Linked DNA regions of Homo sapiens: region 2 is linked to region 1. Evidence: fine-mapped expression QTL. A gene starts in region 1. The other region holds a variant in brackets. All regions are shown on one strand. Distances are from middle to middle.

Region 1 (5,386 bases):
CACACCCCCCCACCCGCAGTAGGCCTGAGGCCCCGTAGCAAACAGTGTCTAACAGGAGCAGGCAGCACAAAGACAGGAATGGGAGATTAGTGGGAGGGAGGGAGGCCGGGATTGGGGCTCAGCAGGAGCTTCAGGCTTTTTAAAATTCAAACTGCTCCCTGACCAATACAAATCACGGACACGCTACTGACTACTACACGGATTTATAGCATTAAAAACATGCCTAGTACGTGACAGCTATATTAACTTCATTCTTTTAAACATTTATCCGTACGTTTGCAGGAAATGTGAAACAATTTATTGTAATCAGGACGCTAAACTCAAAAATAACCTCCACAAAATAACTTATTCTACAGTGACAATAATTTAATGACACAAAAAATATGAACCAATGTAACAAACACTAGTAAAACAAGGGATTTCGCTGAGCAGTGCTGCTTCATTTTAACCAATGAAAGTTTTCCTTCAGCGAATATGAAACAAAATATCAAAACGTGTAACCCAGGTACACTTTTCTAGCAATTTGCCTGACTGAGGAATTTTAAATTGGTGTTTCCCCCTTATACCAACCTACATTATGAACGCCTCCATAAACAAGCTCGAAACACTTAACTTACTCATGAACTAGAACTTGTCAAGTTAGAACTGATATTTTTCTCCAGCATTTACAGATACATTTAACCTATTAAAATGACACCTCTCTCATTACACAGTCAAACATCATGGCACAAACAGCCAATGACAATCCTGGGACCTCAAGAAGAACTGCCCTGACATAAAAGGATGGCACCTTCTACAATTTTTTAACCTCCCAAGGATTTTAAGTATAACTTAATTTCTTTTTTGGAAAAAGAAAAGAAAAGTGGTTTTACCCGTATCTCAGCACAATTCTCAGAACACTTAAAATTCTTTGTATGCTCCTACACGTTTTGGTCAGGAAGTACCTGAGTGTTTTACGTATAGTCGCTTAAAACTGCCCTTACATAACGCATACAAATAGAAAGTGGCAGAGTAAACCTGTCAAGTACTTTATACTTGTCTTTGAATAAAAAGTCCATGTGCAACAACACACTGTCAAAACAACAAGATAAAAGCTCTTGGGGAGGGGGAGATGTGCAGTGTCTACCACAGTATGTTTTTCTGTATTAAATATTCATGTGGACGATTTAATTCTTTAAAAAAGAAAATGAGTCTTTATGAACTTTCCAACGTCCAAACAAGTTTTAGAAAGAGAAAGAATTACCACTGGATCCGCGTCTGAGTATTTACGTTTGTCTCACTAACTGAAACTACTTCCTCCCTTCATGGGGTCACAGGGGGAAGAAGGGAGGTTGTTTGTTTCACTGGGACGTTCCCCACTCCCGGACCGGGAAAGTTGTAAATATGGGGACGATCAGGGCACATTTGCTGTTAGTTGTATTGTTTCCGCCTCCCCACTAGCTACGGCTCCACTCCCGGGCGAGGCCTGTCACCGACCAGCAGTCGCTCCGCTCAGCCCGGAGCTCTCCTAATCCCCGAGCTCAAGTAGATTCCGCTGGCCCGCGGCCTGCACTCTCCGCCGGGCCTACGCCTCCCCGGCCGCCCAGCAGGAGCCCAGTCCCCGCCACCGGAGCCGGCCGGGAGAGGGTACAAAACCACCGCTACCCAAGGCGGCTGCCACCAGAGAGGAGCGAACTCTAGACTCGCCTGTGGAAGAGACCTGGGGCCGCTAAGGAAACGGCGGGGAGGGGAGCGAGGAGGAGAGACGCTGAGGACCTGGCGCCGGCGCCGCCGCCGCCGCCGCCGAAATAAAGAGCAGGAATTTACCTGGGCGAATCGGCGTCTGAATCCAAGGGGAGGCCGAGGCCGCTGTGGCGAGAGACTATAATCCGGGCCGGGAGGGGGGGTGGCTACGGCTCCTCTTCCGTCTCCTCAGTGCGGGGAACATGTAGAGCCGGGGGGAGACCAGCCGAGAAGACAAATCGTTGCTTCTTCTTCCTCCTCCTCCTCCTTCTCCCACATAGAAACACTCACAAACACCCGACCACGGGCCCGAGCTACCGGGGGGGCATCGCCGCGGGCCCGGGAACCAATTCTCCTGTCGGCGGGGGCGTCCCTCCCTGCGGCTTGGTGGTGTCGGGTGAGTCGGTACCGACGGAGGGAGGGGGGGGAGGGCGGGGGGAAGGAGCCCTGTGTGTGTCTCTCTCTCGTTCCGTCTCTCCCTCTCAGAACAAAATGCCGACCGGAAGTGCAGCTGCAGGAATGACTCCCTCCGCCGGCGCCAAACACTAACAACCACCCCCTCTTCCCCACTCCACTTCCGCCACCGCCGCAGCCGCCGCTGCCGCCACTTGGGCTCGCGTCCTCGGCCGCGCCGCGCGGCACCCGGGCCCAGCAGCCGGGAGGCGGCAGCTCTCCTCTACGCCCGTCCCCTCAGGGCGGCTGTGGATGTTGCCAGTATTGTCGATGCTTCAGAGCGACGTTTGCCCTGCGACACAGGCGGGCCGGCTCTCCTCTGTCTTTATTTTCCTGGAGGCCGACAGGAGCGGGGCCCGAGTTCGGTGGTGGTCGTGAGCGTGGGGGGCACTCAGGCCCGGACGGGCTCTCAGGTCGCCGACGGCGGCGGCTGGAGGCCGCGCTGGCTGTCCCAGGTCGTCGTTAGCTTTAGGGAGCCGATCTCCGGGCGGCCCCACAGAGGACGCCCGCGATTCGATGGCGATGATGCCCGTTTTAAATGGTGTCCCTGCAGCCGGGTGGATGGATGGATCGTACACCTTGCCTTTTGAGAGCCGGGACCTTACGCCCGACTGCGTGTTATTTCTGCGAATAAGAACGCAACCTTTGGAGGTGAAGACGACTGTCGGCTGGATTGAATTGGAATCGTGTTTGTGATGATGCGTTTATTTCTGGAAATACGCGGTCTCCGCTGCTTTTGCTTTTTGTCGGCAGAGGTTTGGGTTCTTCTCTAACGGTCAGGATAAAGGCCTGTAGGCGACGCTGCGCGAGCGAGAAGCTCGCCCGCGGCTGCCCGGGCGCCCCCCTCTAGGTGTGGGTGGAGCCGAGCGCGCGGGGAGAACCGCCGGCCCCGACTCAGCCACCGGTGACTGCGGGCGACCCGCGGGCCTGCGGCCAGCTGATTTCAAACATCGTTTTCCTCTTTAGGTTCGGAAAACTGAGGCGCTGGACAAGGCTGGAATACAATATGTGATTATACGTACAGTACTATGGTTGTTGTAGTTTTTAAATTGTAAAACAAGAAGTAACCATTGTTCCACCGTTCTCTATTAAGTTTGTGTAAATTAAAAAGGGGCTATTTTCGGTAAAAAGTGCAGTAGGTAAGCGGAATTTTACTCAACCGGGACGAAATTCGTGTTATATGAATTGTATTGTGTATTTGTGTGTGTACCAGTGCGCTAAAAGTAAGTAGGAAAACTTGCTTAGATTATTCCTTTTGCCTCAGGCCACTCAGGGGGCCAAGATCCTGTCACTCCTTTTCTCTAGGCCCTGCGAATGGCTTCCCGTCTTGAGGGGAGTGAGCCAAAGCCTTGACTGCGGCAGAAGTCCCCGCGCGCCGTTGAGGGTGGGGGCGGGCCTGCCCTGGCATCCTTGCGAGTAGGACTCTTCCCTGAGCGTCGTCCACAGGGCTTGCTCCTTCACCTTCAGGATTTTGCTCGTGTCACTCGGTGCTTCCGCGGCTACTTTTAAACTGAAAGTTCCCTAGCCCCCTTCTCATTTTATCCTTTGGACAGTCTACATATCCATACTTGTTTATCTTCTTATCTCTCCTTCCCCAGTGCAATGTAAGCTCTAAGAGGACAAGAGGTTGTGTTTTTCTGCACTGGTGTTACGGCCCCCGCCTAGAATGCCACACAGTAGATGCGTAGTATGTGGTTAAGGAATGAATGCGATTATAAGGGCCTTGATGCTCCCCCATTTCTGTCTTTAATATGTACTTATATGCTACAGAGAGCTTTATAAAAGATTTAAAACACGTTTATTACAGAATTCTATAAAAATATATTGCTTCTAAACATTGGAAAGCCCTCCACAACACCAGAAACCCACAAATGAGGGATAAAATTTGTTTTTAGGCTTCTGTAAATGAGCATGCCCGAGGACAGTGCATCAAATGATCATATCCATACTGGGCCGATTATGTTTGCTCTTCTGAGTCTCAAACTGCATTCTTCATCTTGTCGTCCTCTGTCTTTCAAAATACATTAAAAGTGAGAATTTGGTTGGCTCAGAGCAAATCCAGCACTATTGGAAAAGTTCATTCAGCAAGTATTTATTGGGCACAAATGGGTACCAGGCACGCTAATTCAAAAGGTGTGTGTTTCTGAGGCTAGAAGGCCTTACATAAAGGACCACATGTGGCTACTTTGGTTGCTACTCAATTATGCTGTCAAGCAAAGCAAATGCTAGTGAAATTTATTTTTAGTTTTCTTCTGAAGAAAAGGTTCAATGAAAGCTGAGGTCAGGCTTGGTGTGGATATTTTAATTCACCATTTAGTTTGCTGTTTGCTTACACTTAGGTTAGCATTAGATATACTTAATCATGATTTTTGAGTACTATAAAACGTGAGAAATCTTATTTCCTAGTGGCTGGAAAAACAGGCTTTTTAAATTAAAATAAGTAAATATATCAGTAAGCTAGAAGCTATGCAATAAGGCTTTGGCTATGGTATTACAAATTTTCATATTTCATGTATTGAATTTTTGGACAAGAAAAGACAGCCTTGATAGGTATTTTATAACCATTAATACAATTAATCAAACATTGTTTAGTAAATCCAATCGTCTATTCATTATTATTTTTCCCATTAATCTTCAGAACAGCTTTAAGTTAATACAGATGACTCAGAATGTGTTTTTCACTCAGTTTCAAAATACCATTATTTCAATTCGCTAATAGAAGCACAATTATCTTCTTGTCTGCTTTCTTAAATGTTACTGGTAAACTAGTAATTTTGCATGTCCAGGTAACTGCAGCTGCTACAGTCAATCTGCTTTGGAAAGTCTTGGCATTATTGTGTCATTTAATTTAAAATTTTTAAGTTTTTTTAGTTTCTTCCCTTATTGAGGACTTATTAGGCGCTAATTAGCTTTATGCTAGACATCTCATGCATGGCAGTGAATGAAAACAACACTGCCTTTGAGGGTTTTAACTTGTATATAGTTTATACCATTTTTTTTCCAGGTTATAGAATCAAAGAAATTGTTTCAATTCATATCACAGTATTTCTCTATTAAATCAAATGGTATTTTGCTTGCATAAATTTAAGTATCCAAGTTGAGATCTTACATAGAATCTGTTAATCTAATATTAGTGTTTTCTTCATTTCATTGTCTTGGGTTTTTTTTTCTTAATAATTATTTTTCCCAATACCATCCATTTGTTTTGCTC
Region 2 (5,386 bases), 65 kb before region 1:
CTGCATCATCAATTTTTCCACATATTGAATAATTCCAATCAGCATAAAACATATATATGCAAATAATTGTCCCTACTTCCAATAAAAACAAAACACAAAAAAACCCCACCATTTATCTTGACCCCTATGATCTCTCTCCAACAATGGCTTAATTTTTCTGTTCCCTTTCACAGCAAAATTCCCTCAGTTGTTTATATTCATCCCTAATTCTTCTCCTACTTTCTCTTGGAACCCACAACCATATGTGTTTTTATTCTCCATTCCACCAAATATCTTGCCACAGTTAGCAATTACATTAAAATTGCTAGATTCAGTGGGCAAGCCTCTCACCTCATATGATTTGACCTAGAAATCAACAAAGTTGATCATTCTCTCCTCCTTGAATAATTCTTTGTCTTCCAGAACAACACATTCTCCTAGTTTTTCTGCTGACTAAACTGGCCACTCCAGGATCCTCTTCTGGTTCTTTTTATCTTCCTCTCCGTACTCTACTGTTGAACTCATTCAGTGGCATGATTTTAAAATAGTGCTTCTGTGCTTCTGGCTCCCAAATTTGTATCTCTAAATCTGACTTTTCTCCCATATACTAGACTCATATCCAATTATCTAATCAATATCTCTGCTTTAGTACAAATTTATTCCCTCTTCCCAAACTGTTCTGATGCTAGGGTTTTTTTTTTATAGTTACATATGGATTTTAGAATCATCTTGTCAGTTTCTACAAAGCTGCTTGGAATATGATAGATATAGCATTCAATCTATGTAACAATTTGAGAACTGATAACCATATTGAGCATTATGATCTACAAACAATTTATATGTCTCCACTAATTTAGATATTCTTTAATTTCACTCAGCAATGTTTACTAGTTTTTGGTCTACGGTGCTTTCACATACTTTTTCAGATTCATTCCTAAGTAGTTCACATTTTTGATGTTATTATAATTGACAAATTTTTGATTTCCAATTGTTAATTGTTAGGATGCAGAAATACAATAGAATATTGTATATTAATTCTGTATCCCGAAAGCTTACTAAACCTTACTTATTAATTCTGGGATCTTTTTTGTACAGTTGGCCTTCCGTATTCACAGGTTCCACATCCATGGATTCAACAAATTGTGGACTGAAAATATTTGAGAAAAAACAATATGACAATAAAAAATACAACAAAAATTTGAAGTTACAATATAACAACTATATAGTTTTCTGTAATAGAAGGGTTTTTTTTTAACTAAAGATTACTGCGGAAAATTTTTTGTTAGGTACAAAATACTACAGTCTCACAGTGAGGTTAGCAAGAATTAAAACTTTTTTTCAGTCCTACTACTGCTAAACCATGTTTCCCTTGCGCTGTATTTGTGCAATTGGTTTCAAAAACTCAGAAAACAGTTCAAGAGAACCAAATATAACCACTAAATAATATAACTAATGAATGTGAAAAAAGATACTGGAATAGCTTTTTAGGGAGGATAATTTTTTTTTTTTTTTTTGAGACAGAGTCTGTCACCCAGGCTGAAGTGCAGTGGTGCGATCTCGGCTCATTACAGCCTCTGCCTCCAAGGTTCATGTGATTCTCGTGCCTCAGCCCCCCAAGTAGCTGGGGCTACAGGTGTGCACCACCACCCCCCAGCTAATTTTTTTATTTTTAGTAGAGATGGGGTTTCACCATCTTGGCCAGACTGGTCTCGAACTCCTGACCTCAAGTGATCTGCCTGCTTTGGCCTCCCAAAGTGCTGGATTTCAAGGCGTTAGCCACCGCACCTGGCCTTTTTTTTTTTTTTTTTTTTTTTTTAAAGACAGAGTCTCACTCTGTCACCCAGGCTGGCATGCAGTGGCACGATCTTAGCTCACTGCAACCTCCGACTCCTGGGTTCAAGCCATTCTTGTGCCTCAGTCTCCTGAGTAGCTCGGATTACAGGCATTCACCACCCCACCTGGCTAATTTTTGTATTTTTAGTAGAGACGGGCTTTACCATGTTGGCCAGGCTGGTCTCAAACTCCTGACCTGAGGTGATCCGCCCCACTCCGCCTCCCAAAGAGCTGGGATTATAGGCATGAGCCACTGCACCTGGCCAGGGAAAATAAATTTTTAAAAAGTCAACTTAGACCAATAAAAAACAGCTTTTTACTAAGGATCTAAGTTTTTAAATTATTTTAAATAGTTCGATTTACAGAAAAAGAAGCTATCAATGGAGAAAAGTGACTTGTGACTCATTACCTACAGCAACCTTTCTATGATTTCCACTGGACCCCTGCACTACATGACAAGTATACAAATTAAGGATGATGTAAATTAGGGATGTATTTTTTTCTAAATTAATATACTCATGGTCAATGAACTAATCATAACATGTAAGTTTTGATAACATCAAATACTATATCCTTTCTGTACATAAACTTTTAAAAATTTAGTTCTGTAATATCAATTTTTCATTAGAAAAATAATTTTTTAAATTTTAAGTGAGATTTCTGATTTATTTAATAATAGAGTTCCACAAAAGTAAACTTACTGTGAAACACAGATTATTAAAAAGAAAATGTAGTAGCCATATATCCCAGAGTAGAAGGCTAATGGAAACAGAATCAAATGACCATGTGTTATAGCATAATTTCTCAGATAATGATTCCAAACAGCAAAAACACCTGAACAAACTCTTTAATTAAACCTGAAACTCTCCAAACAGCATTTTTGGTGGTTTTTTTTTTTTTTTTGGTTCTGGGTTTTGAACGTCTTAGGATATTAACTCAATAGTGATTCCCCTTGTCCA[T/G]AACATGTGATAGCTGATTGATTTTTTTTAAAGTACCTAAAGAAGATAATTAGGAAGAAAAGCTTTCTTATGTTACAGGAGACTTTTATTGTTGTTTAAGAAAGTGAAGTAAAATTGGGGGGTATAGAAAAGAGGGATATAGAAAGATCGGTTTCTAAAATTATGTTTTAACACAATTAATTATGACATATAAACACAAAAGCAAAACTAGACTTAAAAAGGAAACACAACACTTTCAATTAGAATACTGAATTGCCTGAACTTGAAGGAGTAGTTTAATCTCTCTTTACCTATGTTTTCTTATCCCTGGGAGATGAAACTTATTAAGTGATTAATTTCTTTCTTTTTGATTATCTGGTTTCCTGAATTTTTTTAAAAAAGTAAACCTTTATGTATTCACTATCATGCACTTAATACCTAACACCTACAATAGGGACAACCAGCAGTTGTTGAGGATACAGTGGTAAACCAAATAGACATATCCTCACAGACCTTAGAGTCCAGTAGGGGTGATGAATAATCACTACGAAACATATAATTACATATTTGTGATAAATTCCATAACAGTAACAACAACATTTGATGATACTAACATAGTGCTTAACATATGCCTAGCATTGTTATCTAAGGGATTTATATATTTTAATTCATTTAATCCTTATCTTATGAATTAGGTACTACTTTTATGTTCATTTTAAGACAATAATTACAGAGGCACATAAAGATTAAGTAACTTGCCCAAGTCTGATTCCAGAATCCCCACTCTTAACATTCCAGAGTCCTAGCTGTTTTTTATATGAAAAACAAAACAAAACAAAGTGCTGCAAGAGAAAAAAAGAAGGTAACTAAACTTACGTTTGGGGAGGGAGGAAATGTCTCATTAAGGAAATCTCATAAGTAAGAGTTAAACAGGCAAAGGCGGAAGAAGAAATGAGGATCCATAATGATTAACATGCTCAAGTCCCTGAAGAAGGACAGAGCCTAGCTAAGGAAAGAAGATTATGTAACTGGTACATAGTGAAGGACTGACACAAGATGAGGGAGAAAAGGTACGTACAAATTAGTTCATTCCTGACCTGACAGACAAGCTGAAGGGGCTCTCAATTTGATTTATTTTGACTCATGCTACTTCAAAAAATAATCTACTGGTTATTTACATACATATCTTAGTTAATAAACATGGCACACTTAAAAATTGCTTAGTTTTGAATCCATTTCTCTCTTTTCACACAAGGCTGTATATACTCCTTAAAAATATTAACCTGAAATTACAATAACTGTGTTTACAGAATTAGTCATAGCTTTAAGGCCTTGGAAAGAACAATAGTTTCTCACAAACAGAGTATGAAAACAATTGCCTCAGAATAAACTTTAAAGGAAAAATCTAAATGCTAAGTAAAAGGGCAATTGTACATTCTTGGGTATTTATGAAATGAAAACTGTGTTCATGCAAAAACCTGCAAATGAATGTTCATAGCTGCTTTATTCGTGCTATGGTTTGACCGTGTCCCCCAAAGTTCATTTGTTGGAAACTTAATCCCCAATACAACAGTGTTGAGAGATGGGACCTTTAAGAGGTGATTAGTTCACAAGGACTCTGCCCTCATAAATGGATTAATGTTGTTGTCTCAGGAGTGGGTTCCTGATAAAAAGAAGAGTTCTGTCCCCTTCTATTTCTCCCCACTAATGTCTTGTGCTCTCTTGCTCCTCCACTTTCCATGATGGGATGACACAGCAAGAAGGTCCTCGTCAGATGTGGGCCCCTCAATCTTGAACTTTCCAGACTCCAGAACTATAAGAAATAAATCTCTGTTTTTTATAAATTACCCAGTCTCAGATATTCTGTTATAGCAGCACAAAATGGACTAAGACAATTTCATAATAGCGAAAAGCTGGAAACAAATGTCCTTCAATGCAGAATGGTTAAACCAACGATGGTAGAGCCATACTACAGACTGCCAGAACAATAAAAGGGAAAAACTATTGGTAAAAACATCAACTTGGATGATATAAAGGAAATTACACTAAGTAGAAAAAATACCAATTTCAAAAGCCTACAAACTACATGATTCCATTTTTGTAACATTCTTGAAATAATAACATTGTAGAGATGGTGAAAAGATTAGTGGTTGCCAGGGGCTGAAAACTCCCAAGTGGGCCAGACGCAGTGGCTCAAGCCTGTAATACCAACTTCAGGAGGCCGAGGCAGATGGATAGTTTGAGCCCAAGAGTTCAAGAATAGTCTGGGCAATATGGCAAAAGCCCATCTCTACAAAAAATACAAAAATTAGTCAAGTGTGGTGGTATGCACCTGTAGTCCCAGCTATTTGGGAGGCTGAGGTGTAAGGATCACTTGAGCCAGGGAGGTTGAGGGTGCAATAAGCTATGACTACACTACTGTATTCCAGCCTGGGTGACAGAGCAAGACCCTGTGAAAAAAACAAACAACAAGAGCGCAGGTGTGGTTATGAAGAGATACCACCTGAAGTAGTGTTTACAGTGATAGAATAGTAAGTTGAGTGTGGTACTGTTACACATAACTATATGTACACACAACTGTACACACACACACCTGCTGTACACGCACACAACAGTACATATCCAGCTGGTTAAAT

The links. PIP is the estimated chance that this variant, and not a neighbour inherited with it, causes the effect.
Region 2: its variant is the best candidate, but not a certain one, in a credible set for the expression of NIPBL-DT in whole blood (INTERVAL, PIP 0.52).

Annotation. Positions count from the first base shown.
Region 1 is chr5:36,873,599-36,878,984 of GRCh38, reverse strand. It overlaps NIPBL-DT (NIPBL divergent transcript), which reads left to right and starts at 2,291. Exons shown (of 1, transcript NR_046262.1): 1 at 2,291-5,386. NIPBL (NIPBL cohesin loading factor) reads right to left here and starts at 2,216. Exons shown (of 47, transcript NM_133433.4): 1 at 1,807-2,216. RefSeq lists silencers at 1,591-1,710, 2,351-2,460 and an enhancer at 2,871-2,920.
Region 2 is chr5:36,938,842-36,944,227 of GRCh38, reverse strand. All of the region lies in intron 1 of NIPBL (NIPBL cohesin loading factor), which reads right to left. Among named protein-coding and RNA genes, the nearest start is that of NIPBL, 65 kb to the right of the region's middle. The variant T/G (reference allele first, on the strand shown) is at 2,772.